Homo sapiens: one gene and its partners. The protein of the gene in region 2 purifies or fractionates together with the protein of the main gene of each other region. This does not show direct contact. Each region holds a gene or a part of one and is shown on either strand. Other genes may lie near its edges. The genes, in order: EXOC6, EXOC7 and EXOC6B.

Evidence for each region.
Region 1: the proteins of EXOC7 (region 2) and EXOC6 purify together in Homo sapiens (affinity purification with mass spectrometry; 5 studies listed by BioGRID and IntAct, with this or other methods). This does not show direct contact.
Region 3: the proteins of EXOC7 (region 2) and EXOC6B purify together in Homo sapiens (affinity purification with mass spectrometry; 3 studies listed by BioGRID and IntAct, with this or other methods). This does not show direct contact.

Annotation. Positions count from the first base shown.
Region 1 is NC_000010.11:92,842,209-92,852,573, reverse strand, and holds the start of EXOC6 (exocyst complex component 6), read right to left. Parts: upstream 4,055-10,365; 5' UTR 4,041-4,054; coding exon 3,940-4,040; intron 1-3,939. UniProt on the Homo sapiens protein: Component of the exocyst complex involved in the docking of exocytic vesicles with fusion sites on the plasma membrane.
Region 2 is NC_000017.11:76,080,516-76,090,122, reverse strand, and holds the end of EXOC7 (exocyst complex component 7), read left to right. Parts: coding exon of another isoform or gene 1-79; exon of another isoform or gene 80-381; coding exon of another isoform or gene 382-448; intron 449-802; coding exon 803-948; intron 949-1,199; coding exon 1,200-1,352; intron 1,353-1,560; coding exon 1,561-1,659; intron 1,660-2,000; coding exon 2,001-2,063; intron 2,064-2,402; coding exon 2,403-2,469; intron 2,470-3,230; coding exon of another isoform or gene 3,231-3,269; intron 3,270-3,977; coding exon 3,978-4,043; intron 4,044-4,325; coding exon 4,326-4,446; intron 4,447-4,713; coding exon 4,714-4,809; intron 4,810-5,542; coding exon 5,543-5,606; intron 5,607-5,833; coding exon 5,834-5,875; intron 5,876-5,983; coding exon 5,984-6,117; intron 6,118-6,372; coding exon 6,373-6,475; 3' UTR 6,476-7,469; coding exon of another isoform or gene 7,470-7,660; 3' UTR 7,661-8,073; coding exon of another isoform or gene 8,074-8,241; 3' UTR 8,242-8,367; coding exon of another isoform or gene 8,368-8,578; 3' UTR 8,579-8,720; coding exon of another isoform or gene 8,721-8,845; 3' UTR 8,846-9,107; downstream 9,108-9,607. Other genes in the region: ligand-gated cation channel ZACN precursor, read right to left, coding at 7,470-7,660, 8,074-8,241, 8,368-8,578, 8,721-8,845. UniProt on the Homo sapiens protein: Component of the exocyst complex involved in the docking of exocytic vesicles with fusion sites on the plasma membrane.
Region 3 is NC_000002.12:72,820,696-72,831,166, forward strand, and holds the start of EXOC6B (exocyst complex component 6B), read right to left. Parts: upstream 5,339-10,471; 5' UTR 5,216-5,338; coding exon 5,103-5,215; intron 1-5,102. UniProt on the Homo sapiens protein: Component of the exocyst complex involved in the docking of exocytic vesicles with fusion sites on the plasma membrane.

The DNA of each region.
Region 1 (10,365 bases), on a different chromosome or scaffold from region 2:
CTTCACATATATATACACACACATATATACATATACAGAATATACTTTTTATATAGATGTATTTTATACTTTTAAATCCACATATATGGATTTAATTCTCTAAAATTTTTTGTAAAATCTGTGTGTATGAGGAATACTGATTTAGTTTCCTTTTCTAGTTATGTCTTTCTTTCTTTAGTTCTGGTATCAGGTTAATGTTGACCTCAAAATGAGCTGGGAAATATTCCCTCCTCTTCAATTTTCCAGAAAAGTCTTTGTAGAATTGGCATTAATTCTTCCTTAAAGATGTAGAATCCACCAGTAAAACTATCTGGGCCTAGAGTTTCCTTTTGGGGAAGGCTTATAACAGCAAAATTCCCTTTCTTTAATTGATACAGGGCTATTCAGCTATTTCTTCTTAAGTGAACTTTGATAATACTTTGTATCTTTCAACTAATTTGTCCATTTCTGCTAAGTTGCCAAATGTATGAGCATGAAGTTGTTCATAATATATATACATTTTTTGAGATGGGGGTCTCACTCTGTTGCCTAGGCTGGAGTGCAGTGGCACAATCTCAGCTCTCTACAGCCTTAACGACCCAGACTCTGAGCCATTCTCCCACGTTAGCCTCCCGAGTAGCTGGGACCACAGGCACACACCACCACACTTAGCTAATTTTTGTATTTGTAGAGACAAGGTCTCATTATGTTACCCAGGCTGGTCTTGTATGCCTGAGCTCAAGCAATCCTCCTGCTTCAGCCTCCCAAAGTGCTGGGATTACAGGCATGAGCCACTGCACTCAGCCTATTCATAATATTTCTTAACCTTTTTTTAATGTCTGTAGAATCTATAGTCACGTAACCTCTCTCACTCCCGTTTTTTTGTTTGTTTGGTTAGTTGGTTGGTTTTGTTTTTTTTTTGTTTGTTTTTGTTTTTGTTTTTTTAAGATGGAGTCTCGCTCCGTCGCTCAGGCTAGAGAGTAGTGGCATAATCTCGGCTCACTGCAACCTCCGCCTCCCGGATTCAAGCGATTCTCCTGCCTCAGCCTCTCGAGCAGCTGGGATTACAAGCGTGTGCTACCACACCCAGCTAATATTTTTTTGTATTTTTAGTAGGGACGGGGTTTCACCATGTTGGCCAGGCTGGTCTCAAACTCCTGACCTCAAGTGATCTGCCTGCCTCGGCCTCCCAAAGTGCTAGGATTACAGGCGTGAGCCACCGCGCCTGGCCCTGTTATTTTTAATTTGTATCGTCTCCTTTTCTACCCCTAAAGGTTTATCAATTTTACAGTCTCCTCAAAGAACCAGTTTTGAGTTTCACTGACTTTCTGTATTTCTGTCTCACTGAATACCACTCTGATCTTTACCATCTCCTTTCTTCCACTCTTCTGAATTTCATTTGCTCCTCTTTTCCTAGTTTCTTAGGCTAGGAGCTGAAGCCATTCTTTTCTAGTAGAGGTGTTTGGTGCCATAAACTTCTAACTATTTCTTTAGCTGCATTCACAAATGATATGCTGTGTTTTCATTTTACTCAGTTTAAAATACTTTCTAATTTCTCTTTTGATTTATTTTTTGTGTGTTAGTCAATGACCAAATATTTGGGAATTTTCCAGATAGTTTTTGTTTTTTTGTTTTTTTTAACTACTGATTTCTAATATACTTCTGTTGTGGTCAAAGAACCATGTTATATGTCAGGGCCTGCGGAAAGTTTATCACGTGCTTCTCAGGAAAAGATCAGGCTGAAAAATCCCGCCGCTGAGAAAAAACAATATAAATAAAATGATAAGTCTACAGGCCAGCTAAAAGATAATTAGGAAATAACAACAAAAATTAATCTTAATACTAAAATATTTATGAATAAATTGATGTCTTGGATTTCCTTCAAAATAATCCAAGATGATAGGGAGTAGATAAGGGAAGAGATCAAACAAGACTGGCCAGGGAATGAATTGAAGCTAGATGACAGTTCATGGTGGTTCATTACACTATTTTACTTTTTTAAACATTTAAAATTTTTCCATAATAAATGGTTTTTAAAAATGCAATATTAACACTTCACTTCGTGAAACCTGAAAAAAAAGGGAAAAAATAGTAGTAGCTTAAACAATGTTCAAGAGAAAAGACTGCTAGCAGTACCCTCTATATGTGTGCAAAAAGCGTCTGCTTATAAATGAGACACAAATATACATATATATGGGATAAGTATGAGTCACCAGGGATTGCTAAAGAAAAGAGAGTGGGTTCAAACAAAATGAGCCAGTTGAAACAACTGCCCAGCAAAAAAGAACAGAATAACACTATGAATACACATATTCTGTTCCTGAGTGTCCCAAAAATCTCTCAATATATTTCAAATTTTTCTTCTAAGTTAATTTCATCTTTTTTCAAGGACACTACCTAGCACATTTTCCTAAGATGAAGCACCTCCTTCATAACCAGTACTATTTTCACAAATAAACTACTCTAGTAACTTTATCACACACTGCACTCTCAGTTTCAAGATGCAGTGATGAAAACAAAGCTTCCTTTTAATCTTACTTCTTTCATTACCAAGTATACAGTTTATTAAAAGAAATAATAATGTTGGAAAATTAAGGAAATGCACTAATTATGCATTATCATATCATAGCAGAAACCTTATGTGACAAAAATTTATAACATGCCTACCACATGCTTGGTGTTAGGGATACAGTAGTGAACAAATAGGCAAGGTCCCTAATGTTCTGAGTTTCCTGGGCATCTGAATACTCTCCCCTCCCCATTCTACAAATAAGGAAACCGAGATCCAGAGAGGTTAAATAATTTTTTTCCATGACTGCACATTTCATCAGAGGCAGAATTAGGGCAAAACAAGAACCCAGGCCTCCTGACTCTTAAGGGCAAGGTGTATTTACATAACTTGAACTGGCTTCAATTTACACTATATTCACAGGTCCACAAACTGTACAGCGCTCTATTCTAGGAAGTGTATTCTGAAGAATACTAATGATAAAGCATAATCAGTCTCAAGTTCCCTAAGTGAATAATAACTTCATTTATCATTATTATCACTCCAAAAGATGAAACCTTATATGTAAAAGGAACTTATTCTTGAAGACAGTGCCTAACCTAACCCATGGCTCATTACGTTGCCTGGCTAATAATATTCTATTGGAACAGCAGGTACTCAGTTTGGCATGGAATATGCATTACCTAGTACTATTCTTAAAATGAATGGGGAGGAACTCGATTTAAACGGAAAAATTAATGCAATTTTAATGAAATGTTTGTAAATAAGTAAAAGCTGTTCTGCCTCCAAAGCAGCTTAGATCCCGCGAGCGCAGGGTCACCCTAGCGTGTTCCCAAGCAGCAAGCAGCTGCTCTCCTCCAGCCCACGCTCTCTTCTCCAGCCCACGCTCTCTTCTCGCCCACTGCGGCCGCGCGGGGGAGTAGGGGGAAAGCGGGCCGGCGTCTCCCGCTCAATTTCAATTCTCCCACGCCCGCGGCAGCCCGGCGCGCCAGGCTTTCCACCCGCGCGCGACCTGGCACCTCCGTCACGCCGGGTGCCTGCTGTCGACCCTAGCCTGGCATGCCCGCGGCCGAGCAGCCCTCAGCCCCACCACGAGCGAGACGGGGGCAGGCCCCAGAAGTGTCCTCGGGCCCGGGGGCCGCAGCCAGGAGGAGAACGCGGGGCCGCAGCGCGGGGCCCGGGGTTAGAGACCCTGCAGCAGCCACACCCACCGGCTGCGGGGTGACAGCTACAGCGGTGGAGGCAGGCCGCGCCGACAGGTGCAGCCGCCTTCTCGGTCCCGCCCGGGTACCGGCTAGAGTTCCGCCACCCGCGAGCGCCCCCGCCCGCCCCCGCGCGCACCACCTGTCGGGGAGCTTCGCGCGCGGCCGGCGGCGGACGCCCCGCCCGGCTCGTGAGGAGCGGCCGGCGTGGGGCGGGGGGCCGAAGTCCCGGTGGGATGAGATCTTTACCGGAGGGTGGGCCCCACACAGGCGGTGTCGGTGCTCTCGATCTCCTGCAAGATCCGCTCGTGCTCGGGGACGGTGCCCAGACTCTCGCTGTTCTCCGCCATTTTGGCTGGAAGCTGAGGAGCCAGCGAGGCGCGGCGCCGCGGGAACGACGGGGGCGAGCTCCAAGTGGCGCGAGCGCGAAGGGGCGGGGCGGGGGCGGGGCGCTCGGGCCGGCGGCGCGGGGGCGCGCGGAACGCCGGGCAGAAGGCGCGCGACCCGGTTCCCGCCCCCGCACCTGCAGGAGTGAGCGGGGGCTGTGAGCTGGGGCTACGGGCGGCGGCCGGGTACCCAGCTGGCCTCCTGCCCTCTCTCGCGACTAGTCCCTCCTGGGCGTCTTGTGCCTGGCCTTTGGGCTTTAACATATCTCCTTGTCTTCTGTGTGTGCCACACCCTGTGCCACACGCGGGGGTACCGTAGTAATCAGCAAGGTGGACACTCAGATCATCACCCTGAATCTGTAATAAGAGCCACGGGGACATTTAACAAGGGCCTGATGTACTCTGGGTCGTGGGGAGTCAGAGAAAGGAAAACATGCACTCACGAAAAGCAAAATTGCATGTGATAGTAAGATTTATTTTAGGAACGAATAAAGATCCCAGTTGACCATGAAGACCGCTCCAGGTGGATTCATGTCCCCGCCTGCAAGAAGTCCACAGCGGCCAGTCAACTTGGAAATAAATTATAAGCGACATAAAAAATTAAATGATGAGAAGTTAAGACACTTGATGGCAGAGATACCAAAAAAAAAAAAAAAAAAAAAGGCCCAGGGCGATGTGTAATTCATACCAAAGTCCGTGAACTCAGGTGCCCCCAGGTCAGAGTAGCTGGGTTGAGAAGGGGTGAGAGCTCTTGAAAGGGGGTTAGCAGCAGGGAGGTGGGAGAGAGAGGCAGGGAGGCTTGGACAAAGGTATCAGTGTAGAAAAAAGTCGTGCTTAATGACATGTTTGTGGGACACTGAGTAAACCAGTTTGTCATGATCAAAGCAGGGAGGAAGGAAGACTAAACAGGAACAGAATGGAAACCTAGCCTGAGGAACAACTACTTTCTGCTCTACATTAATCCAGGGCTTTGAAAAGCTTCCCTTTGAGTCAACCAAGCTCTTTATCCAGCTGTGTAACTCACTCACCCTTAGTGAGCTTTTACTTGAAACCTACCTCCAGCCTCCTCCCCACAAACATCCTGGGAGGTGGTATTGTGCAATAGTTAGAGCATGAGCTCTGAAGACCAGTGTCCGAAGACATTAATTCTTGGATTAATATCACTTGACAGCTGTGTGACATTGGGCAAGAACCTAGTTCTTTTATATGTCAGTTAAATGACTGTAAATGACAATGGCAGTGTCTGCCTCATATTGCTGTCCCATGGTGTATGAGTTTTCCATTGTTGCTTTAACAAATCACCACAAATTGAGTAGCTTAAAATGACTCAGACATATTATCTTACAGTTCTGTACGTTAGAAGTCTGTCACAGGTCTCACTGGGCTAAAAATCAAGGTGTCAGCATGTCTGTGTTCCTTGCTAGAGACTCTGCGGGAGAATTTGTTTCTTTGCCTTTTCCAGCTTCTAGAGGCCACCCACATACCTTGGCTTGTGGCCCCCTTCCTCCATCTTCAAAGCTAGCAGCATTACATCTCTCTGACCATTCTTCTGTGGTCACATCTTCCTCTGACTCTGACTTAGGCTGGAAAAGATGCTCAGTTTTTAAGGACCCATATGATTAGAGTGGACCCAACCATTTAATCCAGGATAATCTTCCATCTCAGGGTCCTTAACCTTAATCACATATGCAATACCCCCTTTGTCATGTAAAAATAACATATGCACAGGTTCCAGGGATTAGAATGTGAGCATCAGTGGGACCCACTGCCTACCAAACTTAGGAAGGGCCCTATAAAACATTGCTAATGCCCTCCTTCCTATTAATCTGGAATCTTCAGAGCAATGGATTCCAGCTATACACATCCATTGAGCTAAGACAGTCTTCCATTTCCTGCAGAGAGACCTAGCTTTTCATTCTTTTTGTGGGAGGGGATAAAATTTGTCTTCTTTTTTTTATGTTTCAGTTTCAATTTTCAAAAGGTTATTTTCCCCTCTCAAGAACTTCTTAGGTCGAGCACAGTGGCTCACACCTATAATCCCAGAGCTTTGGGAGGCTGAGGCAGGAGGATTGCTTGAGCCCAGGAGTTCGAGGCTGCGGTGAACTATGATAATGAGCAAAATGAGGAGAGCAGGGCATGTGGCACAGGCCAGTTTCCTATTTGACCAATGTCTCCAGCTGGGGAATTACTTTCCTGATCATTCCTTCCCTAGAACTCTACCCCTTTTCTTCACCAGTCCTGATACCTTTTATTCCAAAGCTGGCTCCAAGTGCCCCTGCTCTGGGAAACCAGCCCTGCTTAGGCACTCCTCAGGCCAGCCCTGTTTCAACACCTGCCCATAGAGATTACTTCAACATAAGCAGCAGTATCTTCCCCGAAATTCAAGTGAACATGGAAGGAAGTCCATTTACCACTTCTCCTTCTGAAACAGTTTTTGCTGGTTCCCTCTGAGACTTCTGACAGTTCCGTGAGTACCTGGAGGTTTTAGCTAAGAATTCAAAGCTAAATGTCCTAAATAACTAATTGCACATTTGTTTTGTTTGTTTGGTTGGTTTTTTCGAGACAGAGTTTCGCTTTTGTTACCCAGGCTGGGTAACAATGGCGTGATCTTGGCTCACTGCAACCTCCGCCTCCTGGGTTCAAGTGATTCTCCTGCCTCAGCCTCCGGAGTAGCTGGGATTACAGGCACGTGCCACCACGCCCAGCTAATTTTGTATTTTTAGTAGAGACTGGGTTTCTCCATGTTGGTCAGGCTGGTCTCAAACTCCCGACCTCAGGTGATCTGCCCGCCTCGGCCTCCTAAAGTGTTGGGATTACAGGCGTGAGCCACCGTCCCCGGCCCTAACTGTACATTTTAATCATGGACATAGATATATCAAATATGTCAATGTGGGGTGGGGGAAGCCTATCCAAGGGATAAATGATTTTTTTTTTTTTTTTTTTTTGAGATGGAGTCTCTCTCTGTTGCCCAGGCTGGAGTGCAGTGGTGCGATCTTGGCTCACTGCAACCTCTGCCTCCCGCTTTCAAGCGATTCTCCTGCCTCAGTCTCCTGAGTAGCTGGGATTACAGGTACATGTCACCACATCCAGCTAATTTTTGTATTTATAGTAGAGATGGGCTTTCACCATGTTGGCCAGGCTGGTCTCACACTCCTTCCCTAAAGTGATTGCCCTGACTTGGCCTTCTGAAGTGCTGGGATTACAGGCATGAGCCACCACGCCCAGCCCCAAGGAGTGAATGATTTAACGTCTGCACTGAGAAGGTTGCGGAGTAGCAGGGCACAGACAGGCAGATTGCAGATGCATGTGGAATTATTTTTTGGCAGTGGATATTGACTTCCAGAGATCAATCCAAAATCTCTTTTCAGGACTCCTGGAAGAAGAAAGATACACCAGGAAGACCAGCAGGACAGGAGATGCATTTTGTGTCCAGTATAAAAGTAATTGGCAAAGTAAGGATTTGACTTGTAAATAAACTCTTAGTCATTAGGAACTTAACTTTGCGCCTTTTATCTACAGACTAATGACCTGTCTTGGGAAAGCGCCTCCCTCAGAATGAGGTTGTAGAGTGCAACTGCTCTGGTCTGGCATTTAACTACTTGAATTCAAATTCCAACTCATCTCTTACTAGATGTCAGGCCTCAGGGAGTTACTTAACTTGACTAAGGCTCACGTTCTTCAAGTGTGAATTAAGGACAATAAGAATCCCTAGCTCACCAAATTATGTGAGGATTAAAGAAGATAATATATGTATTATGTTTAGCCTAGAGCTCAATCAACATTAGCATTGGCGACTAGGGTTATCAGGCATTTGCTAGTAAGCCAGAGAGCCCAGCATTTTAGCCTCCTCTTTGATAAAATAAAAATAAAAACCAGACACATAAATGTTCTTTTTCCTAATCATTAAAAAAAAACCTGATTGTGTATCAGGGTTTTCTGCATGTTTGGTGGATGTAAACCAACTGAAATATGTTTCCTGCTTTTGTAGAGAGGGAAACAGGAACATGTCTTTGGGTTGGATTCTTGGTTCCAGACCCATTTTAGTGAACCCTCTGGATCCTGCGCTTTTAAGGCAAGCACCTTTCGTTGTCCTTGGGAGCAGTGCTCACTCATCCTTGGAAGCACATATCATGGTGGTGAACAAATCACTGAGTCTGTCTCCATTTCCAGGAACTGCTCCTACATCAGGCACAGGGACGATGCCTGTATTGTTCACTGCCCAGCCCAGTGCCTTGCATATAGTAGAGGCTCAATTAATAAGTGAATGATCCACATGCAAATACTTGTCGTATTAAGCTTAATGTTGTAAATGGCATGTTTTTCTTTTTTTTCCTTTTTTTTTTTTTCTGAGACACAGTCTTGCTCTGTCACCAGGCTGGAGTGCAGTGGCGCGATCTCGGCTCACTGCAACCTCCGCCCTCCAAGTTCAAGTGATTCCCCTGCCTCAGCCTTCTGTGTAGCTGGGACTACAGGCACGTGCCACCACGCCCAGCTAATTTTTTTTTTTTTTTTTTTTTTTTTGAGACAGAGTCTCGCTCTGTCGCCCAGGCTGGAGTGCGGTGGTGCAGTCTCGGCTCACTGCAGCCTCCACCTCCAAGGTTCAAGCAGTTCTCTCCCGAGTAACTGGGATTACAGGTGCCAGCCACCACGCCCGGCTAATTTTTGTATTTTTAGTAGAGACAGGGTTTCACCATCTTGGCCAGGCTGGTCTTGAACTCCTGACATCGTGATCCACCCACCTCGGGCTCCCGAAGTGCTTGGATTACAGGCGGGAGCCACCGCGACGGCCCACTCAGCTAATTTTTTGTATTTTACTAGAGATGGAGTTTCACCATGTTGGCCAGGATGGTCTCGATCTCTTGACCTTGTGATCCGCCGCCTCGGCCTCCCAAAGTGCTGGGATTACAGGCGTGAGCCACCGCGCCCGGCCAAATGCATGCTTTTAGAGGTAGGGTACACATTTACAAAAAGATTCCCCTCCTCACCCCTGGGAACCCTATCATTATCCTCGCAAAACTTTACATCATTCAAATGTTTCTTAAAGAGTTTTAGAGCTCTTGTTATAGAATTATAGAACTGTATCAAAATGTAAAGTACAGGCAGTCTTTATACATTGGCTCTGATAAACTAATCCTTCCCAGTGGCTTTTAGCCACTCGTTTCAGATGTCCACCGTCGCAGGGGCCCTCCTCCAGCTTCTGCCTTTTTGGTGTGGTGACCCCAAGTGGCCACACTCTGTAAGTGCAAGAGAATAAACAAAGCCCAGCTGGTCTGGGAGGATTCCTGCTGTAAAACCCTGTGCAGGAATCGGCTGTTCCATAAAGATCTGGACCCCACGGTGGAGAACAATAGAAGGAAATTTGAAATTGAAGCCAAATAAAATCAGTTTTTTTCTAAAATACGGGCCAGTCCTCAGAGGAGTTCAAAAGCAACTAGCCCCGGGTTTTGTTCATTCAACAACTATTTTTATTAAATGTTTGCTGTGTACCATGTTCATGTATTAAGCTCTCAGACAGGGCTGGCTCATGGTGTGTGACCTACGCAGTTGCCTTTGGTTCAATACCCTGTCATCACCATCTTGTAATTCTTAATAATTTTTGAAAAAGGAATCTACATTTTCATTTTGCCCTGGGCCCCACAAATTATGTTGCCAACCCTGCCCTCAGAAAAATGTCCTGAAAGCCCTCAAAACTAAACATTTTAAAGTCCACTGAGCAGTTAAAGAACAATATCATTTTCTCTGAGTTCCATTCTCTCTTTCCTTCAAATAACACACCCCCCACCCCACCAACTCCACCACCACCACCAGTTTATAAGACAAGCAATTGTCCCTGCTCCCTACTCTTACCTTCCTTCTCCTTGTTGGTTTTCTTATTCGTCATCCTGTTCAATGCACTCTCTATTCCTCTCTCTTTCCCTGCTTAGCCTTCCTTTACTGCCCTTTGCCCTTTCTCCCTTTCCTCTCCCTTGTCCGATTTTTCTCTCTCCTCTTGGCAAAATAGGATTTGAAATGTAGCTAATGAAATGATGATGATGATGATGATGATGATGATGATGACAGCTGACATTTACTCCCTGGCTAGGGATATTAGCATCCCTAAATCTTCCTATTCCTTACCCTTTTTTTTTTTTTTTTTTCTGAGACAGAGTCTCGCTCTGTTGCCCAGGCTGGAGTGCAATGGTGTGATCTCAGCTCACTGCAACCTCCACCTCGCGGGTTCAAGCAATTCTCCTGCCTCAGCCTCCTGAGTAGCTAGGATTACAGGCGTGCACCACCACACTCGGCTAAT
Region 2 (9,607 bases):
GGGCCAAGGGGAGAAGCCGCTGCTCCTCGGAAAGCAGGCAGAGAGGGAAGGTGGCTCCCTTGAGGGCAGGGAGCCCTGACGTCCGCCTCCTGCAACAATTCAGAGCTCTGATCCCCTCGGAGCCCATCCCTTGGCACATAGGACCAGGCAGTTCTGCCGCCGGTTTTGCCTGCAGGCGCCCCCGCCGTGGCCTCCAGTAATAGGGTCTGGCCTCCTCCTGGGGCAGCTGGCAACCCCTCCTCTCTGGGACTTACCAGCCTCTTAGATTTTGACCCCATGCCAGCCAGCCTCAGAAGCTGCAGCCAACCACCCTCTTAGATGTTCCAGAAGCCCTGACTGGGCTGGTCACTTCCTTCACAGGCCCCGCATTTGCCCACATGGATGACCCCAGTGCCAGCCTCCTTGAGGTGGCACAGCCACCTGCCCACCCTGGGCTGCCCTCTTTCAGGTACAACTCAGAATGCTCAGTCCTGGGGTCAAACCACCTTATCCAGGACGCTGATTCAGGAATCTTCCCTCCTTATCTTTCCATCCGTCACTCTCCTGCCTCTGGTGTCTGATCCCACTGTCTGCGCAGAGCCGAGAATGAAGCCAGAACAAAGGCTGGGCTCAGCTCCTTTTATTCCCCTCGAACCTGGCGGGGCCTGCTGGCTCCCTTGCAGCTTTCTGCCAGAACAGTCAGCCTCTTCCCCATCCTCTGCCAGTGTGGGGTACAGGCCAGGAGCTGGGGGACCCACGCCGCCCCCAGCCAGGAGTGTGGCTGGCCCCAGACCAGCAGCTCAAGAGTTGTGCCATCCCCCAGGGAGAGATGACATGCTGGACGTGGAGACCGATGCCTACATCCACTGCGTCAGTGCCTTCGTCAAGCTGGCGCAGAGCGAGTACCAGCTGCTGGCCGACATCATCCCCGAGCACCACCAGAAGAAGACCTTCGACTCCCTGATACAGGTCCCGCCCCGCCCCGGGGGCTCTGCAGCCAGCCCCAGCAAGAGCTGTCACAACAGACTCTTGCAGCCCTCAACTCCACCCACCACCACCACCTCGTGCCCTGGGGACCGGTCCTGGGTGGACGCTCACCACCTCCCCGTCACCCCTCTTCCTGCACACTGGCCCCCCTACATACTGCAAGGATCCCCCACTAGCCCAGAACTAGCTCCCACCGCCCCACCCTTCCCTGAACTGTCTCCCTGCCCCCTCAGGATGCCCTGGATGGGCTGATGCTTGAAGGGGAGAACATCGTGTCTGCTGCCCGGAAGGCCATTGTGCGACACGACTTCTCCACGGTGCTCACCGTCTTCCCCATCCTGCGACACCTCAAGCAGACCAAGCCTGAGTTTGACCAGGTGCTCCAGGTATGTGGGCGAGGGGCCCTCAAAAACACAGCCAGGAGGCATCGTGCTGCCGGGTGTGGCCGCCCCATCCCTCCCTGGGAGAACCCCATTCTCTGTCCCACACTTCTGCTCTGAAGGTGCATGGAAGCAGCTTAGGAAGGGCCCTGGGTGAGTGAGATGCTCACAGAGCGACTGGAGGTGAGCTGGGGGCTCCCCTGTGCTTCCTCAGGGCACGGCTGCCAGCACAAAGAACAAGCTGCCTGGCCTCATCACATCCATGGAGACCATCGGTGCCAAAGCGCTGGAGGACTTCGCAGACAACATCAAGGTCCCTGCTGTCCTCCCCTTTCTCCCTCCCTCCCGGCCCAGCACCACAGTGACCTGGCCCTGGGGGACTCTCAGAGCAGGCCTCCAAGAGGGTGCGTTGTCCCGGGGCAGCCAGCTGCGCCACTGGCCTGTCAGCACCCATGTGCCTTCCTTTCCTTCCTGGGGCCTCCAAGCCCTCTGAAGTGGGAAGGGCCTCTCCCCCTTGGTCCAGCCTGGCTCAGCCTTTGTGCCTGAGAGGTGTCCTAGCACCCGTCTGCCAGGAGGCGGCACCATGAGCAGGTGCACTGGGGCATGGGGTGGGCTGGGGGCTGCTTCAGGGAACCAGAGGCTGTTTTTCCACAGAATGACCCGGACAAGGAGTACAACATGCCGAAGGACGGCACCGTACACGAGCTCACCAGCAATGTGGGTGCTGCCTGAGGACACCAGGGAGAGGGGAGGAAGGAGGGCCCAGGCCCAGGCCCAGGGCCAGGCAGAGTACTGGTGGAAGGGACTCAGCCTGGCCCAGAGCCGCTCGCACCTTTGTGAGCAGTCCTGGGTGGCAGGATGGACAGTGACATGTTTAGTGTCTCTAGCAGACAGGGCCTTTCCTGGCAGGCTAGAGTGAAAATGAAGTTTCCAGCCGCGCTCTTCACTGGGCGGATCCCAGCCCTGGGCTGGCCCTGGGCACTCAGAGGGGTCGCTGTGGGAGGCCGTCGGCCGGGCCTGCCACTTGCCCTTCTGCACCGTTTTCTTCCCACCCAGGCCATCCTCTTCCTGCAGCAGCTTTTGGACTTCCAGGAGACGGCAGGCGCCATGCTGGCCTCCCAAGGTACTGGTACCTCCCAGTTGGGCCCCCTGCCCCACTCGCCTCCTTGCCTGGAGACATGGGGTTAGAGGGCAGGTAGCAGTGAGGAGGTATCTCCAGTCTGTGGAGGGGTTGAGGTGTGCTCAGCAGAGGGTCCCTGGGGCTGAGCATCAGGAGAGCAAGGTTTGCCTGCACCTTTCAAGACCAGACACTGGACCTCTGGCCCCTCCCTCAGCCCCTTTGACCGTCCTCGCCCTGGAAGCAGTGTCCTCACTCTGGGAGCGGTGCTGGTTGGTTGGAAGGTGTCCTTTCTGCCCCTGCCCCCCTCCCAAATCCTTCTCTCGTGTCTGCCTGCTCTCCTAATCAGGCTCGCTCAGCTGGCCTTCAGAGGGTAGCAAGTGTCTCAGGGCCCGCTGGGCGTCTTCCTGCTGGCCCTGCCCTGGGACTGGAGCTCAGGGGGTTGGCCTGTAAGCAAGAGCACCTTTCTGGGTCATTCCAAGCACTGAGGTCCCTGGGCCCTCTCCTCCCGTCCCATTTTGGGGGCAAGGAGCCTGTGGGCAGCCTCCAGCCTGCAGTTCTCAGCTCTCTACTTTCCAGGGTGTTCCCTGGTCCTCAGAGGGTCCCGCCTGCTGTGTCTTGCTATCTGTGTTTTGGCTGTCGTGGGGAGAGGTCTGCTTAATTCGGGTTGACATGCCGTTTCTAACCTGTTTTTTGCACTTTGCATCTTTCTCCCTCCTTTGTCTCTCCCTCTGTCCCCTCTGTGTGCACTGCCTTTCACTCCGTAGTTCTTGGGGACACATACAATATTCCTTTAGACCCCCGAGGTAAGCAGTGCGGTTCTGCAGCCCCCTCCTGTCCCTCTGAAGCTTGGTGGGTGAGGTTCCCTGGGGACTGACTCTCAGTACCTACTGGGGAGCCTGAGTCAGAGGGGACATGAGTTTTCTCGGGGTGCTCTCAACTCTCTCTGCTCCCTTCAAGGCCACTCTGTCTCTGAGCTTATCCGCAGCACCTGCCCAGGCTAGAGCCCTGGATACACCCCCTAGGCTCGCCCGGCCTCCCTGCCTTGCTGTCCCCACTCGGCCTTCCCCACTGTGCAGGCCGCAGCTTCGTCTGTTCAGTAGGGTCTGGTAGAGGGGATGTTCGAATGTAGGGGAGAAGGTGGAGAGGCTGTGGGGAGCCCATTCTAAGACTCTGCTGTTGACAAAAGGAAAAAGGGGGCCTTGTAGAAACCACCCAGGGTGGGTGGGGGCAGGAGGGGACAGGGCGCTGGCATCTCACTCTTTTCCTGCCAGCTTTTCTGCTGACATGGGCCAGCTCCATCCCATCATAGAGGGCAGCTCTGGGTTCCAAAAACTCCAGGGCTGGTGCTTCCTGCGGCAGGGGCCACCCTGTGGCTTAGCAGGCAGCCAGCTCTGCCCAAGGAAGCCCAGGGCCTGTCTCAGTGTCCCCTCAGACTGCTGCATGGCCTGGGGGAAGGGCCGTTGAGGGTCTTGGCTGCTGCCACTGCAATAACAGGACTTCTCCTCTCACAGAGACCAGCTCTTCGGCCACCAGCTACAGCTCTGAGTTCAGCAAGCGGCTGCTAAGCACCTATATCTGTGAGTGTTCTCCCGGGCAGACCAGCAGCCCTGCTGCCTGCATGCCCTGCCTTTCCCTTCCTTCTGTCTGTGCTCTCTGGCTATTCCCAGGGCCCTCTCCTAAGTGCCATCTGATCTTTGGAACCACAACCTGACCTCTAGTTCAGAGGCTGAGGGGAGTTGGGCTAAGGCCTCCTGAGGCAGGACGAGGAGCGATGGATAGGAGCGCGTTCGCGGGTCCTGGGGTGGGGTCGTTTGGGTCAGACTGCCATGGTGGGTGTGGCCCCATTTTTCCCTGTGCAGGTAAAGTGCTGGGCAACCTGCAGTTGAACTTGCTGAGCAAGTCCAAGGTGTACGAGGACCCAGCTCTGAGCGCCATCTTCCTGCACAACAACTACAATTACATCCTCAAGTCCCTGGAGAAGTAAGTGGCCTGCGGGAGTGAGTCTGCGGCTCTCACCTTCCCCTCGGCTGTGCAGCTGTGCCAGCCCCTGCCCCCCTGGGCTCCTTCTCTTGTGGACGAGAGGGGAGGGGGTGCTTCAGTCTCCTCCACCCCAGGACCCGGAAGGTGGGATGCCATAGAGCTTGTGGAGTTTGGGGTGCAATGGGAGGCCCTCCCGGCATTGCCGCAGCCTTTGGGCCTGAGGAGCCAATCCTGTCCTCCTCTCCTCTGTCCCCTACCCCGACCCAGGTCTGAACTGATCCAGCTGGTGGCAGTGACACAGAAGACTGCTGAGCGCTCCTACCGGGAGCACATTGAGCAGCAGATCCAGACCTACCAGCGCAGGTGAGAGGCTGGGCCCGCCCTGCTCCTGCATGGGCCCCTGTGCCACCACGCACTCTTCCTTCTCAGCACCTCAGGACACAGAGTCGGTCACGGGGAACTCCTGTCCTCTGGACCCTAATCCTCCACTTGGTTTCTAATCAAACTCACGGGGTGGAGAGAGAAGCCCCCTCCTCTACCACTACCTGCTCCTAGGGGCCCACTATGGCCACTTTAGAGGGGAGTCTGCCAAGTGTCAAGGCTAAGAATGATTGAAGAGCTGGCTCTCAGAGACGTGGGTAATGTTTACCTAGGAGAAGAGCAAGGTCGCGAGAGCACTTGAACGTGGCTGAGCCTTGCTCTGTGAGGATCCCGCTGCTTCTCTGGTCCTCTTTCTTCCTGGCTTTGTTTCTTCCCTTTGAATGTGTCTACCTCTTCCTTCTCATTTATCTGCCCTCCACTCCTTTCTTTCTCATCTGTTTCTCCATCTTAGTTTGCCACGATATTGATGTGAAGTATAGTTGACAGTATTTGTCCAATTTATTGAACACTCAAGTGTTTCCTAATGTTATCTCAAAAAGTGACCAGTTTAAAGATTTTCTCTTCCCAGGAAGAAAACCTGTTGTTTGCTTAGTTGTGACCCACATCCCTTCCTACCACCACCCACCAAGTAGATCCAGAGATTTAGCAAACGAAACAAGCCAGGCCACTGAGGCAGGCCACCCTCTGCCCTCATGCTTCTCTTTCTGTCTGGCAGCTGGTTAAAGGTGACTGATTACATCGCAGAGAAGAATCTACCTGTGTTCCAGCCGGGAGTCAAGGTGGGCTCAAGACCTGGGCTGGGAAGGGGTGTCTGGCAGACGGGATACTTTTTGTCGTGTCTCTGGGAAAAAGTGGACAAGCATCCCTCTGGGATCAGAGAGCAAAGGATGCATGTGGCCATCAGGACACAGGAGACAGGCCCAGACCAAGGGTGTTTGGGGAAGAGTGGGGGAAGGCTGCTCTGCTCTGAAGTGAGCTTTCTCTGCTATCTCTCCTGGCTTCCCAGCTCCGGGACAAGGAGCGGCAGATTATCAAGGAGCGTTTTAAGGTGAGTCGGGGTCCTCTCCCCTCCACTGCTTGCTGCTGCTGTTGAGGCAACACAGACCCAAAATGTTTGTCTCTGGGTGCCTTCCTTTTTCACCTTTTTGGTGGCCAGGGCTTCAATGATGGCCTCGAAGAACTGTGCAAAATCCAGAAGGCCTGGGCTATTCCAGACACAGAGCAGAGGGACAGGATTCGCCAGGCCCAGAAGACCATTGTCAAGGAGACCTACGGGGCCTTTCTACAGAAGTGAGGCCTCCATTCCCCTCCCAGCCTGTGCTGCCCACAGCCCCAGTGGGCCTCTTCAAGCTCCTCTTCCTCAAGGGAAAAAGGAGAAGGGTGGTGGATTTAGGCAGCAGATCCAGCGACCTGGGCTTTGGGGCGGGGCCAGACAGGGAATCGCTCAGGGCCACCCCTTCCAAGACTATCAGGAGTGCCTTAGGCTGAGGGTGGAGCTGGGGAGGGGTCGGCCCTCCCTGTCCCCTGACCACAGTGCCTCCTCAGGTTTGGCAGCGTGCCCTTCACCAAGAACCCGGAGAAGTACATCAAGTACGGGGTGGAGCAGGTGGGCGACATGATCGATCGCCTTTTCGACACCTCTGCCTGAGCCTGCTGCTAGCCCTGCCTGGTTCCACCAGACTGGCGTGTCATTGGACAGATAAACCAGTGTTAGCTTGCCTCTGGGCTGGGTGAGCTTGAAGTCCTCTGGGACAGAGACCTGTCTCCACGCCTCCGGGAGCTGTGTCCCTGAGCCCCCTAGTCCTGGCTCCTGCTTTTTCCCCACAGCCCGTGTTCCCAGCCGAACCAGCACTCTCCCGGAAGCCTGGGGTCCCTCCACACCTTGGCTTTTATGACCCTGATGGCTTCTGAAACAGGAAAAGAGAGAAGGAAGACAGAGGCCTGTGCCCACTGCTGCTCCATGTGTACCAAGAGCAGCAGGGCAGAAGGGCCCTCCCTCCAGCCTAGGTCAGAGGTGGGGACAGAGAACTCCCCTACAGCCCAGAGATGTGGCAGGGCTCAGAGAAGCAGCCAGAGCTCCTGGAGGAAAGGCAGTCGGGACTGACCCCCTCTCTTAAAACACATTCCCGCCCGCCCACAGGCCTGAGGTCTGGGACCTTTCCCTCCCAGGAGTCCCCTAGGTGGCTGGGGGAGGCAGGCTCACTGGCCATTTTCCCTAGAGTCCAGCACACTGCAGGAGGCGTTCGGAGGAGGAGTTCCGCCCCACCCTCTACAGCCTTCCTCAGGCCCCTGTCTCTGGCCCCCAGCCTCAGTGCCTCTTGGCCCAGGGCCAGGCAGTCGTGGTTGCAGAAGGAGCAATTAGGCTGCCTGCCTGTGGGCTGGGAGACAGGGACAATGGGGAAAAGTTAAGGAGCAAAATGGGGGTTGGAAGCAAAAAATAGGGCCCCACCTATTTAGGACGAGATTGAAGACTGACCCTTGAGGCACACTTGCACTGGAGATGGGTTTATTTCACGCTCTGTGCTTGTGTGCTAGCGGAGGGAGAGCTCAGGGTGGCTTAATCCAGAGGCCCTGTCATGGCCCGCCCCCAGCCATGGGAAAGCAAACTTCATCCTAAGGTGTGCAGCCCAGGCCCTGCCCCTTTACAGTCTAGGCCGCCTGCCATGGGGTGCAGCCTCTCCAGGGGCTGCGTCAGACTTGCACGCTGCCCACATCCAGATTCCTGCAAAGACGAATTGGGTGCACAGCACCCCAACCACATACACGAGGAAGAAGATGCGGTCAGCAGTCTCAGGCCAGCTTCTCTGTGACCCCTTTACTCCTCTGGAGGGCTCTGTGGGGAGAGATACAGGGAAAGGAGCTGTTCTTCAAGGTCCCCTCAACATGAGCGGAAGAGCGAACCCCAGGGGTCATCAGCCTGTATCGCTTCCTTTCTTAGATTCTCAGCTGATGAAAATTTGGGTCTGGCCCATTTCAGGCCATCTTCAGTTGAAGAAACACCCTCTTAGGCTGTGCAAGGCATGGGTTATCAGGGGATTGAGGTCACCTGGGACTTCAGGGAGGCTCAGCTTGCTCCCTGCCCCAGACCTGTTTCTTCTAAGGGAGGAGGACATGGTGGAGACCAGGGACAGGAGAGCCAGCAGGGTGGATGCAAGGGGCCTCTACCCACACCTGGACCTCCGTGCCCTCACCCCAGCCCTAGGTGTGCACCTAGGCCTCATTCCTTACCCCCCAGCCCCTGCCCACCTTCAGCAGGATGAGGCCCTGGGTTGCCGTGCTCTCGCTGTTCCCCTCTCGGGGCTGGGCTGGGGCCGCTCTTGGCCCCAAGGTTGCCCCGGGCCAGCAGCCCAGCCAGCAGCACAGTCTCTATGGTGCTGAGGAAGAGCAGCAGCAGCAGGATGGTGAAGTAGTAAACTGGGGGAGGCAGGGCACAGGGAGATGCTCAGGGGCCAGTCCCTGTGTCTCTGGTGCCCAGCGAGCTGAGCACCAGTGGGTGACCGGGGAGAAACAGGGCAGACTGGGTAAGGGAGCAGGGCTTACTGAGCAGTGGGTTGCAGGAGGAGGAGCTGGGCAGGGCCTGCACCAGGGAGGAGTGGAGGACGAGGTAACTCAGCAGCAATGTCACCTTGTAGCCTATGCGCTCAATGGCCCGGAGGGGCAGCAACCCCCCGCACACGTCAGCCAACAGCAGTGCCTCTGCAGGCACCAAGAGAGCGATGATGGACTTGAGCGCCGTGTTCTTCAGCCTCAGCTGGAAGGGGAAAAGTCAGGGCCTTCCCGGCGGGGGGGAAGGAGGTGGGCATCGGGGGCATGGGGCCTGGCCTCTGGCCGTGCATCCTCACTCCCACCCGCCTCCAGCAGCCCTCTGTCGGCCTCCTCCCGACTTGACTCACCGTCACCTGGAAGCAGGGCACCAGCTGCTGGGGTGGGACTTGGGTCTTCAGATCATAAACTACGTATTCCCTCTTGACACTCACAATCTCGTTCACCACGTGGGCCTGGAACTCTAACTCCATCGCTGAGGGGTGGGAATGAGAACTATGAACCAGGAAGGAGAGATCCCAGCTGCCAAGTCTGGGGGTAGCAGACTGGAGCCCAGGGGTGATGGAGACTTTTGATGGCTTTTGGCAGGGACAGACTTGGACACAAAACCGATCCATAGAAGGGCTTCCCAAACCTTGTTTTGCAACATCCCAAATTGTCTCCAGTTGAAGGAAGGCCTTTATCAGATTCATAGATGAGCTTTCATTGTAAAAATAAATGTACTTTGCACCACTTCATGATGGAGGGAGAAGTGGTCACAGGCTCGTCAGTCTATCATCTCACAGCTGAAGCAGGATCCCCAGGGCTACCGCTGTGGTCTCTCATGGAGGGAAGGGTAGGACTTCTCTGCCAAGTTAGATGTCACCTGATGGGTTTATACAGGGTGGCTGCACCTTCAGGTGGTTTCCAGGAGTGAGGCCATGGCAACCTGAGCCTCTGGCCTTGCTGCAAGGGGCCGAGCCACTGCAGTCGCCATGGCTGTGGAGGGCAGTTGCTCTGGGGAGGACAGAAGACTGATGTGCTCGGACCTCTGGGATTGCAGAGCTGCTGCGAATGTTTGAGTCTGTCACCCTAGAGAGGGGCCCTGAGGCTACCGCTGAGCACAGAGATGGGCTGCCACTCGAGTGGGGGGCGCAGTGGGAGAGCAGGTGCTGCCCGCCTAAGCCTGGGGTAGACTGCTCTGAACACAGACCTGGGAGTTCGCCTTCTGTCTGCCTTTGCCCCTTCCCCTTGCCCC
Region 3 (10,471 bases), on a different chromosome or scaffold from region 2:
AGATCAAAATAAATCAACCAGGAATCTGGGTTTTTTAAAAAATAAAAAAAGCAGTCAACAAATGGTGTTGGAACAACTGGATATCCACATGCTAAAGAATGAAACTGGACACTCCTCCTTACATTGTAAACAAAAATTAACTCAAAATGAATCACAGATCTAAATGTAAAAGATAAAATTATATAACACTTAGAAAAAATATAGGAGCAAATCTTCATGATCATGCATTACGCAAAAGTTTCCTAAATATAACATCAAAAGCATGAAACAAAATAAGAAAAAAAATGATAACTGGAATTAATTTAAATTAAAAACTTTTGTGCAGCAAAAGCTAAGAACATGAAAGATATCAAAAAATGGAAAAGACAAATCACAGAATAGGATATAGTATTACAAATCATATATCTGATAACAGGACATATTCAGAATACATAGAGAACTCCTACAACTCAACCAAAAAAAGAAAAGCAAATAACCCAATTTAAAAACGGGCAAAGGATCCAAAAGGGATAAACAATGACCAATAAGCACATGAAAAGAACAGCTATTACGGGAATGCAAATCAAAACTACAATGAAATGCAACTTCACACCCACAAGGATGGCAAAGTAAAAAAGATGATAACAAGTGTTGACAAGGATGTGGAAAAATTGGAACCCTGATACATTGCTACAGGAATGTAAAATGGCGCATGCACTTTGGAAAAACAGTCTAGCAGTTCCTCATAATGTTAAACATAGAGTTACCTTACAGCCTAGAAATTCCACTCCTAGGTACATACTCAACAAAAATGAAAACATATGTCTCTACAAAAACTAGTATACAAATGGCCATGGCAGCATTGTTCCACAGCCCCAAAATGGAAACAACCCAAATGTCCATCAACTGATGAACAAATAAAATGTGGTATATCCACACAATGGAATATTATTCATCGATAAAAAGAAATTAAGTACTGATACATGCTACCACATAGATGAACCTTGAAAACATTCAGTTACCAAAAAAACCCATATTGTTTGATTCCATTTATACAAAATGTCCCGATGTCCAGAACAGCCAAACCCATGAAGAAAAGTAGTGATTGCCTAGGGAGAGAGAGGGAACAGAATGGAGAGACCACTAATGGGTACAAGGTTTCTTTTTGAGTAATGAAAATTTTCTAAAATTAGGTTGTGGTGATTGCTGCACAACTCTGCGAATATACATACCCAAAACCATTTAATTGTATACTTTAAATGGGTAAATTGTATGATACATGAATTATATCTCAATATAGTTGTTTTTTAATGGCAATGTATTTCAATATTAAATTTTAAGTTTGAAAACAAAATCTTAAACAACAATTAGACTGAATGTTAATTGCTATTACCCAGAGTACCAAGTGAAGAAATGACTTCTACTGAGTAAGTGATATAAAGGAAAAGTAGAGATATAGGGATGGGATTTGAAAAATGAAAACAGGGAGCTATTGTTCATAAATGATTTGTCATCAAAATTTTAGTATTTATAACACAAAGCAGGAATGAACATTATTTTAAAAACAGGACAGGCAGGCTTTAACATCTTACAGGCCTCTTTCCAAAATTAGGACTCACAGATAACAAAATAATTTTTAAGGTAAAGACAAAGAGAGAGATAGCTACTTTCCCAAAAGAGTTTGCTAGGCAACACCCTCTTTATGTGTGGATATGCTTGGGCCTTTCAGAATTACAATGAAAAAGAAGAGGTGGTATATCCTTATGATAGATGGGAATCTACCAACATTGCATGTACAGCTCAAAACTAAAGTAATAACAGTAATATAATGAAAAAGTCAAGCCACTGTGACTCCTCAAACAAAAAGGAGTAAGACTGGAAAAAATAATCCGTATCATAGCAAAGAAAGAAAGCAAGTAATGATACACAAATAATAGCTGGCAAAGGAAAGAGTCTGGTTAGGCAATACAGCCAAGTGGATTTTTTTGAAGAGCAGGTATTTTAGGGATATACTAATCTAATATCTGCTCTCAATTTACTTTCTGTGTTCGTTAGTTTCTCTTCAGCTAGAAAACCCATCTCACGAACAGTTAAGAATCTGGTGCCTTTACAATGTTACCTCAAAAGATGAAGAAAGAGGAAAGACATACTATGAAGAAGAAAAGTTCGAGGTTTACAACTGAGAGTAGTTAAGGCAAGAGAGCTACTGCCTTAATCAAACCTGTTTCATGATAGTGATGAAAAACAGGAGATAATGACAATAGAGGCACATCCCAAGTAAGGCATGGGATCTGAAACATCAAGTCTGTGCATGCTGCTGCCTCTGAACGGGATAAGGAAAAAAGGTGAGATCATCCCCTATGAATATGGGTAGGGACAGCTAGACTAAAGACAAAGGCAGTGGGTACTCCTTGTATTATAGGATATTCAAGTGAATGAACCCTGGGTCTGACAGTAAGACTCAGTGTAATCTGCTAAAAAAAAAAAAAAAAAAAAAGTTGAGATCAAAAATGATGAGCCCATAATAATCATATAGGAAGTCAAGAAAAGCAAGTAAAACTGGTAATGAGTCTCAAACTTTCTTTTTTTTACAGTGTCCCCTTAGGGCAAAAGACCTCTTAATCCATCTATCTACACAAAACCCCACTTTTCAGTGAAAAAACTCAGTAACAACAATGAAACAAGTTTTAGGGAGACTGGGTAACTTATATTTAAACCGTAATGTATATACAGTTGACCCTCTGTATCTGCAGGTTCAACCAACTTCTCAAATCAAAGTTTTAAGAAAAAAAAAAAAAAAAAAACAAAAAACAAAAAAAAAGACAGTGGCCAGGCACAGTGGCTCAAGCCTGTAATCCCAGCACTTTGGGAGGCTAAAGCAGGTGGATTGCTTGAACCCAGGAATTCAAGACCAGCTTGGGCAACATGGTGAAACCCCATCTCTATATGAAATATAAGAAATTAGCCAGGTATGGTGGCGAACGCCTGTAGTCCCAACTACTCAGGAGGCTGAGGTGGGAGAATCACCAGGAAGTCGAGGCTGCAGTGAGCAGTGACGATTGTGCCACTGCACTCTAGCCTGAGCAACAGAGTGAGACCCTGTCCCAAAAAAAAAAAAGAAGGATGGTTGCATCCGCACTAAACATGCTACAGACATTTGTCTTGTCATTATTACCTAAACAATACAGTATAACATATATTTACATGGTATTTACATTATATTTGGTATTATAAGTAATCTAGAGATGATTTGAAGTATACAGGAAAATGTGTGTAGGACCATTGACCCTTAAGAGCTGAAGAAAATGGGAATTGAGAAAAGCACAATGGTCCTGATCATAAGGCAATGGGGGTTGGTGGAGAGACAGGCAACTGTGTGGAAGAACTGGTCCAAAAAAGGGAGCTAAAAGTCACTTTAAGGGACAAAGGGGCCAGGCACGGTGGCTCATGCCTGTAATCCCAACACTTTGGGAGGCTGGGGTGGGAGGATCATTTGACCCCAAAAGTTTGAGACCAGCCTGGGCAACATGGCAAAATCCCATCTCTACAAAAAGTTTAAAACTTAGCCAGGTGTGGTGGTGGTGCACAGCTGTAGTCCCAGCTACTCAGGAGGCTTAGGTGGGAGGATCTTAACTCAGGAAGTCAAGGCTGCAGTGAGCTACGATCACATCACTGCACTGCAGCCTAGGAGACAAAAGGGGACCCTCTCTCAATAAATGAATATTAGGTTGGTGCAAAAGTAATTGCGGTTTTTGCCATTGCTTTTAATAAATAAAGAGACAAAAGGCAAACTACTAAGGATAGTTATGACCAGGGGTGGTACTGGCAGAAATGTGCTAACAATGTGTCCTGGAGAAGGAAGCTGTGCAAGTGGAGAGGAGGAGTAATTTCCAGCCTGCCCTCCAATTAGTCTTTCCTGAGTCAACTTACCCCAAGAAAACGCAAGCAGTGAGTAATAACTTTTCTGATGGGAGGGGCAGTGACCCAAGACTGTGCAAGGAGGGTAGGATAGTTATCTATGTATTGGCTGCATGATCAGAATGCATAACAGTAAGGGATAAGGATGAGTTGGTTCTAGGACACCAGTAACATGAGGGGAAGGGGGAAAGTAGTTCAAAACTGGGCTTAGTGAGTAGTTACCAACAGTAAGTACAGGTAGCCGATAATCCCCAGCTGAGGCAAAACAGTGGTTAAGTGTCTGGGTCCAGGCTATCCGAGTAGGAATCTGAGTCCCCCACTTTATTTTCTCTGTGACCTTGGGCAAGTCACTTAACCTATCTGTGCCCTGTCTGTAAAAGGAGAGTAATAGAACCTACCTAATACGGTTGTTTTGTAGCTTAAATAAGTTGCATTTGTAAATCACTTTATACAACGTCTTGGACTTTATGTAACAAGTGCTACCTAAATTTGTTAAATAAGTTGAGGTAAGTAGGGATTTCTTTTGACATCTCCAAATAAAATGGAGATGTGCGTGCAAAAAAAAATGATAACTGGGGGGCGGCAGCAGGGTCAGTTTTCCCCAGCGATGAGGAGGCTGCACCGTGGGCGAGGGTCGTCCTCGTAACAGGGAGGCAGGGATAAAGGAGCAGCGGCTCCCAGGAGAGGGGCGCGGGTTGGGGAAACTTCCATCCAGGCCTAGGATTTCCAGGGACTCGTTTCTGAGAAGTGGCTGTGATTCTGAGGCAAGACTTTGATTTCGAGCACTAGACCATGGAGTGAAATTCTGTGTTGTCTGAAGAGCAGGACTCCTGTCTAGGGCAGGACGTAGTTAGAGACGGAGGGAGAAGGGTGATGTCCCCAGGGGGAAGATCTGCCGGGAGCCACCACCATCTGTCGGGCGCCCTCTCGTTCCCCAGCGCCGGACCAGCCTCGGAGGGAGAACGAAGGCTGCTCCTGCCCCGAGGGAGGCAGCGGGAGGGTCCTGAGTCACTGGGCTGTAGGGCGCCGGGAAGGGACCCCGCGTCGGGGCTGCGAAGGGAGACCCGCCTCGCCCGGTATGCAGGGTCTCTCCGAAGGGAGGGGCCGGCGCCGGACCTGGGGACAGCCGGCCGGAGGCCCGACCCAGAGGAGCCTGCCCCGTCCCGCCCGTTCCCGCCCCTCTGTGGTCCCGGCACCCGGGGTACCTGAGCGTGGGCCCGATGCAGGCCGTGTCAGTGCTCTCGATCTCTCGCAGGATCCGCTCGTGCTCTGCCGCTGTCTCCAGGCTCTCCGCCTCCGCCATCTTACCCCGCTCCATAGACTGGGGGCGCCCCGCAGCGCGTCCCCTCCGTCGGCTCGGCTCACCTTTTCCCTGCCCCACAATGCCGCTCCCACCACAGGCTCCACAGCCGCCCCAGCCTCTGGCTACCCGCAGGCCGACCCCTCCCTCAGGCTCGACACGCCCCCTTGCGTCACCGCGTCCGTCGGCGTTCTGCGTAATGTCCGCTGGGATTTGTAGTTCTCTGGGAAATGCTAGGTTGGATTCCATTCATTCATACATGGAATCCGCAAATACTAGTTGAAGCCCACTGTAAGCAAAAACAGTTAACGACAGTGCGTAAACAGTGATGATCAAGTCAGGCAGTGGCACTAAACCTACAAATTCTTGTTTACCACCTTTGCCACAAAGTGCCAAGGCTCCGTCGGCGCGAATAATAAAGTCTAACTTAATGTCTGACAGAGGCCTTACAGTCTAGTGGGGGAGACACGGGGAGCTGGAGAATTCAAAACTGTGAGCTGTAAGCCAGTTCCGATAATGGAGTTCAGAGATCTCTTCTGGTTGCCAAGGCTTCATAAAGACACTGGGTTTCGGAGGTTAAAAGGCATAACTGGAAGGTGTGAGGAGAATCCAGACAGCCAAAAAGAATTTCATTTGCACTGACGTGTAAAGACGTAGTAGTAAGGGATGGGTCTGGAAAGGTTCGCTGGAGAGAAATTACGAGGAGCCTTAAATACTGGGCTGATAAATGTGTACTTTGTTCTAATGGTTCCACTGATCCAACAACCAACTGCAACAGAAGCACCTGGAAACATTTTTTTTTAATACAGACTGACTGACAGTCATACATCTGGAGATTCTGATCCAGGCATCTGCATTTCATGAACTCATCAGTTACAATTTAAAAATCGGATTTATTAATCATTGCTTGAGTTTTTACGTAACACAATGAATGGGAAGGCACTGAAGGTTTTTTGGGGGTTTGTTTGTTTGTTTGTTTTTGAGACAGTGTCTTGCTCTGTCGCCCAGGCTGGAGTGCAGTGGGGCGATCTCGGCTCACTGCAAGCTCCGCCTCCCGGGTGCATGCCAGTCTCCTGCCTCAGCCTCCTGAGTAGCTGAGACTACAGGCGCCCGCCGCCACGCCCGGCTAATTTTTTTTTTTTTTTTTTTTAGACTGAGTCTCGCTCTGTCGCCCAGGCTGGAGTGCAGTGGCGGGATCTCAGTTCACCGTGAGCTCCACCTCCCGGGTTCACGCCATTCTCCTACTTCAGCCTCCCAAGTAGCTGGGACTACGGGCCCACGCCCTGGGACTACCACGCCCAGCTAATGTTTCGTATTTTTAGTAGAGACGGGGTTTCACTGTGTTAGCCAGAATGGTCTCGATCTCCTGACCTCATGATCCGCCCGCCTCGGCCTCCCAAAGTGCTGGGATTAGAGGTGCAGGTTTTTAAGAGGAGTGACACAATCAAAATGTGGGCGTTAGGAAATTTGGTGAAGGGCAAGTGTGCAAGATGTGCAGAGACAGAGAATTTGGAGATAAGGCAACACTGTAGGAGATGAGAAGGCCTAAACCAGGGAAGCAGCAATGAGAATGAAAAAGAATGAACAAGTAGGAAAAACATCAAAAAGAGAGAATTGACAGGATTTACTAGATACCAAAAAGGTTAGATATTACTCCAAGGTTTAGTACCAGAGTGACTAGTAGAAGAGAGTTTCCACTGACAAAAAAAAAAAGGCATGAGAGAAGAACCAAACTGGAAGTTTAGGCTAAATAATTTGTGCTACAACCATACTATAGACTATTATGCAATCATTAAAAAGAAAGACAAAAGACTCTATGGTCATACATGAAACTGTCTCCAAGTTGTAGTTGTTGAGTGGAAAAATGCAAGGCATGAAACAATATGTAGACTCTGTCCTCATTTGTTTTTTAAAAGAATAAATATTCATATATACGCTTTGATATATATACACACACACATATACATATATATAATATTACATAGATAGAATCTGTCTGAAAAAATGCCCAAAAAACTGTTAACAGTAATGGCATCCAGGAAAAAAAAAATTGGAAAGAAGGAGTTTGAAGTAGTAAGAAGGTAATTTGTAATTATCATTTGCACTCTTGGAATTATTTTCCTTGTGCATGCACTGCTTTTTTAATAAAAATAGTAGTCATGACCTAAGAATGCATTTTAAAAATAAACAAACCAGTAGTAAGGGGAATGGGTTACAAGTCCTGATTTGCCAAGAAGAGAGCAAGTTGATAAACCTGTCTGTCTCTAGATAATCTCTGCCTGTCCTCGTTTTGTTTCATTACTCATGTTTAAACAATTCCAAACAGATGTAGGAGGGGTAGGGAGAGTATGGAGCCTTTTGTATTTCTAAAGATCTCTTGAAATACATGACCGAGGGTCCCTTCAGACACCCATTTTAGCATCTCACTCAGCAAGTTTTTCACCCATCCAGGCTGCTGCATAGACGACATACATTCAGCAGTAGTTAAACTAGCTTCTGCTACTGTCAGCAGTTTTTGTGAGCCTCCACAGAGGCCAGAGGCCACACATCTCAGCAACAGGAACAAGTCTGCAGTAAGCAGTATTGGAAACCTCCAGTGAAGATGGCAAGATGGCCTGTCTAATGTTTATGTCCTCCAAATAGAAAGAATGTGAGTCGCATTGATTCAGTTCCAGCATTAGTGGTTAAAATGTTTTGAGCAGGCTGGGCACAGTGGCTCATGCCTATAATCCCAGCACTTTGGGAGGCCGAGGCAGGTGGATCACTTGAGGTCAAGAGTTTGAGACCAGCCTGGCCAACATGGTGAAACCCTGTCTCTACTAAAAATATAAAAATTAGCTGTGCATGGTGGCAGGTGCCTGTAATCCTAGCTACTCAGGAGGCTGAGGCAGGAGAATCACTTGAACCTGGGAGAAGCAGGTTGCAGTGAGCCAAGATCACGCCACTGCACTCCCGCCTAGGTGACAGAGTGAGACTCCATCTCAAAAACAAACCAAAAAATGCACTGAGCACTTTCTGTGTGCCAAGCACAATATACAAAGTAAGTACTTCACATATATCAACCTCATTAAATCCTTACAACAATCCTTTGCAGTAAAAATCACGTGTCCCATTTTACAGATAAGAAAGCTGAAATATTAGGCAACACCCCACATCTCACATCCATTAAGTAATGAAGCTGGTATTCGAACCAGGTCAATCTGATTCAAAGGCCTATTTCCTAACCAGTAGCCCATGCTGCCCCACCCAGGCCCTTCACGGCCACGAGTTTATTATGTGACCATTCTGCCACTCTATCTCTGCTTCTACATTAATATAATGGATTGTATCATTTCTCAGAACCCTTCCAAAACACCTTGGAGACCTCTTCACAAAACCACATCCCTCCACTTACCTAGAATGAACTGGTTTTCTCTTCTGCATGAGTAGATAGGCAGCATCAGCATTCTCACTGCTCTCCACTGCCACATCTAGGCTGTTGTTTCAACACCCTGATTCCCTAACTCTCCTTTGAAGTCTAGGGCATCAGATTATGCCATAATTATCTACTAATGTCCATATTTCTCCGAAATGTTACTTCTTGGCTCACAGTTTTAGGGACAGGAGGTAGGGAAATTCTGGGCAGAGGAGCACAGGTCCCCAGCAAGGGCCCCACCCTCAAGCCTGGAACCACAGACCAAAGTGAGAACATATATCCCTGTTTTCTTGCTCGAATGTTGCCTTTTCCAAAGCCACCCATGGCCTGCCCCGCTCCCCATCCTGTGCCCATAAAAACCCCAGGCTCTACTGGCAGAGAGGAGAAGCAGCTGAACATCAGAGACTATGGTTGAACATTGGAGATAAGGGGCTTGACTTCAAAGGGACAGCTTGATGGAGTAGCTCTGAAGGAAAATTACCTTCCTGCTCTGTCCCCTTTACAGCTCCCCTTCCCACTGAGAGCCATCTTCCTCAGCAATAAAATCTCCCACATTTACCATCTTCAACTCTGTGTGACCTCATTCCTCCTGGATGCCGGGTGCAGGTGCAAAAGTCTGTCACACTGACCCTCCACTGAGCTGCTAACATTTAAGCTGTCCATGGATGACAAAGCTAAAAGGACACTGTAACACTTCCTCTGGGGCTTCAGGGGTCACGGGCTCCCTCCCCTAGATACTGCCACAGGACCAATACGGAGTTGGGTCTTGCTGGTGCCCAAAGGTGCTCGTCCCAGCTCCTGCACACAGTCACCTGCCCTCTCCCTCCCACAATAGGTAGAGCAGCAAGTGAGTGGAGTTCACCCCTGCCAGTGCCCATGCACTCCAGTTCCCACCCACAAAGGGGTCAGGGAAATTTCCTTATTCAACAGTTTTTCTCTCCACCCCATTCCTTATCATGATCCCAAGGAATTTCAACATTGGGACTGTGTGTGCTGACCACTCTGACTTTACTGATCGATCCCAAGTATCCCAGCCAGGTTCCTGGTGCCACATGGACAATCCATTCATGGCTTCACCTTCTACCTTAATATAGTAAGTCCTAACTTAAAATCACCATTAGGTTCTTGGAAACTGAAACTTTAAGCGAAACTGTGTATAATGAAACCAATTTTACCACAGTTCATTGATATAGACAAGAGTTAAGTTTCTACAGCCTATTTCTGATCTCAAAAACATCATCGAACTTCTAAATAAATACCAAAACACTTCCATTGCTAAATATTGAAATAAGAGCTAGATATACATTTTTAAAAGTTTAATAAAAACAAATAAGATAATGATTTACCCACTTTTTGGTGAACCAGTGAGTGACAGCAATTGTAGTGGTGGTGGGTTAAATCAAGGAATAAATGTTTACAAGACAAAAATTATAAGGAGTACCTCCTACCCAAGGTTCAAAAACAATCACTGAGTGCTTTAGTACAGCATCATTTATTGTTGTGCACCAAACAATTATCAGATACTTTAGGATGTCTTCTTGTACATTAAGTTGTATTCATTCATTTTCCAACTTGCTTATTCCAATTCAGGGTTGCAGGGGGCCAGAGCCTATCCCAACAGCTCAGGACACAAGATAGGCACCAACCCTGGACAGAATGCCATTGCATGGCAGGGTGTACTCACACACATACCCACACTCACTCAGAAACAATTTAGAGATGCCAAGAACCTAACGTGAACATCTTTGGGATGTGGGAGGAAAACTGAAGTACCGGGAGGAAAACCAAAGTACCAGGAGAAAATGCAGGCAGACATAGAGAGAATGTGCAAATTCCGCACAGACAGTGGCCCTGGCTGG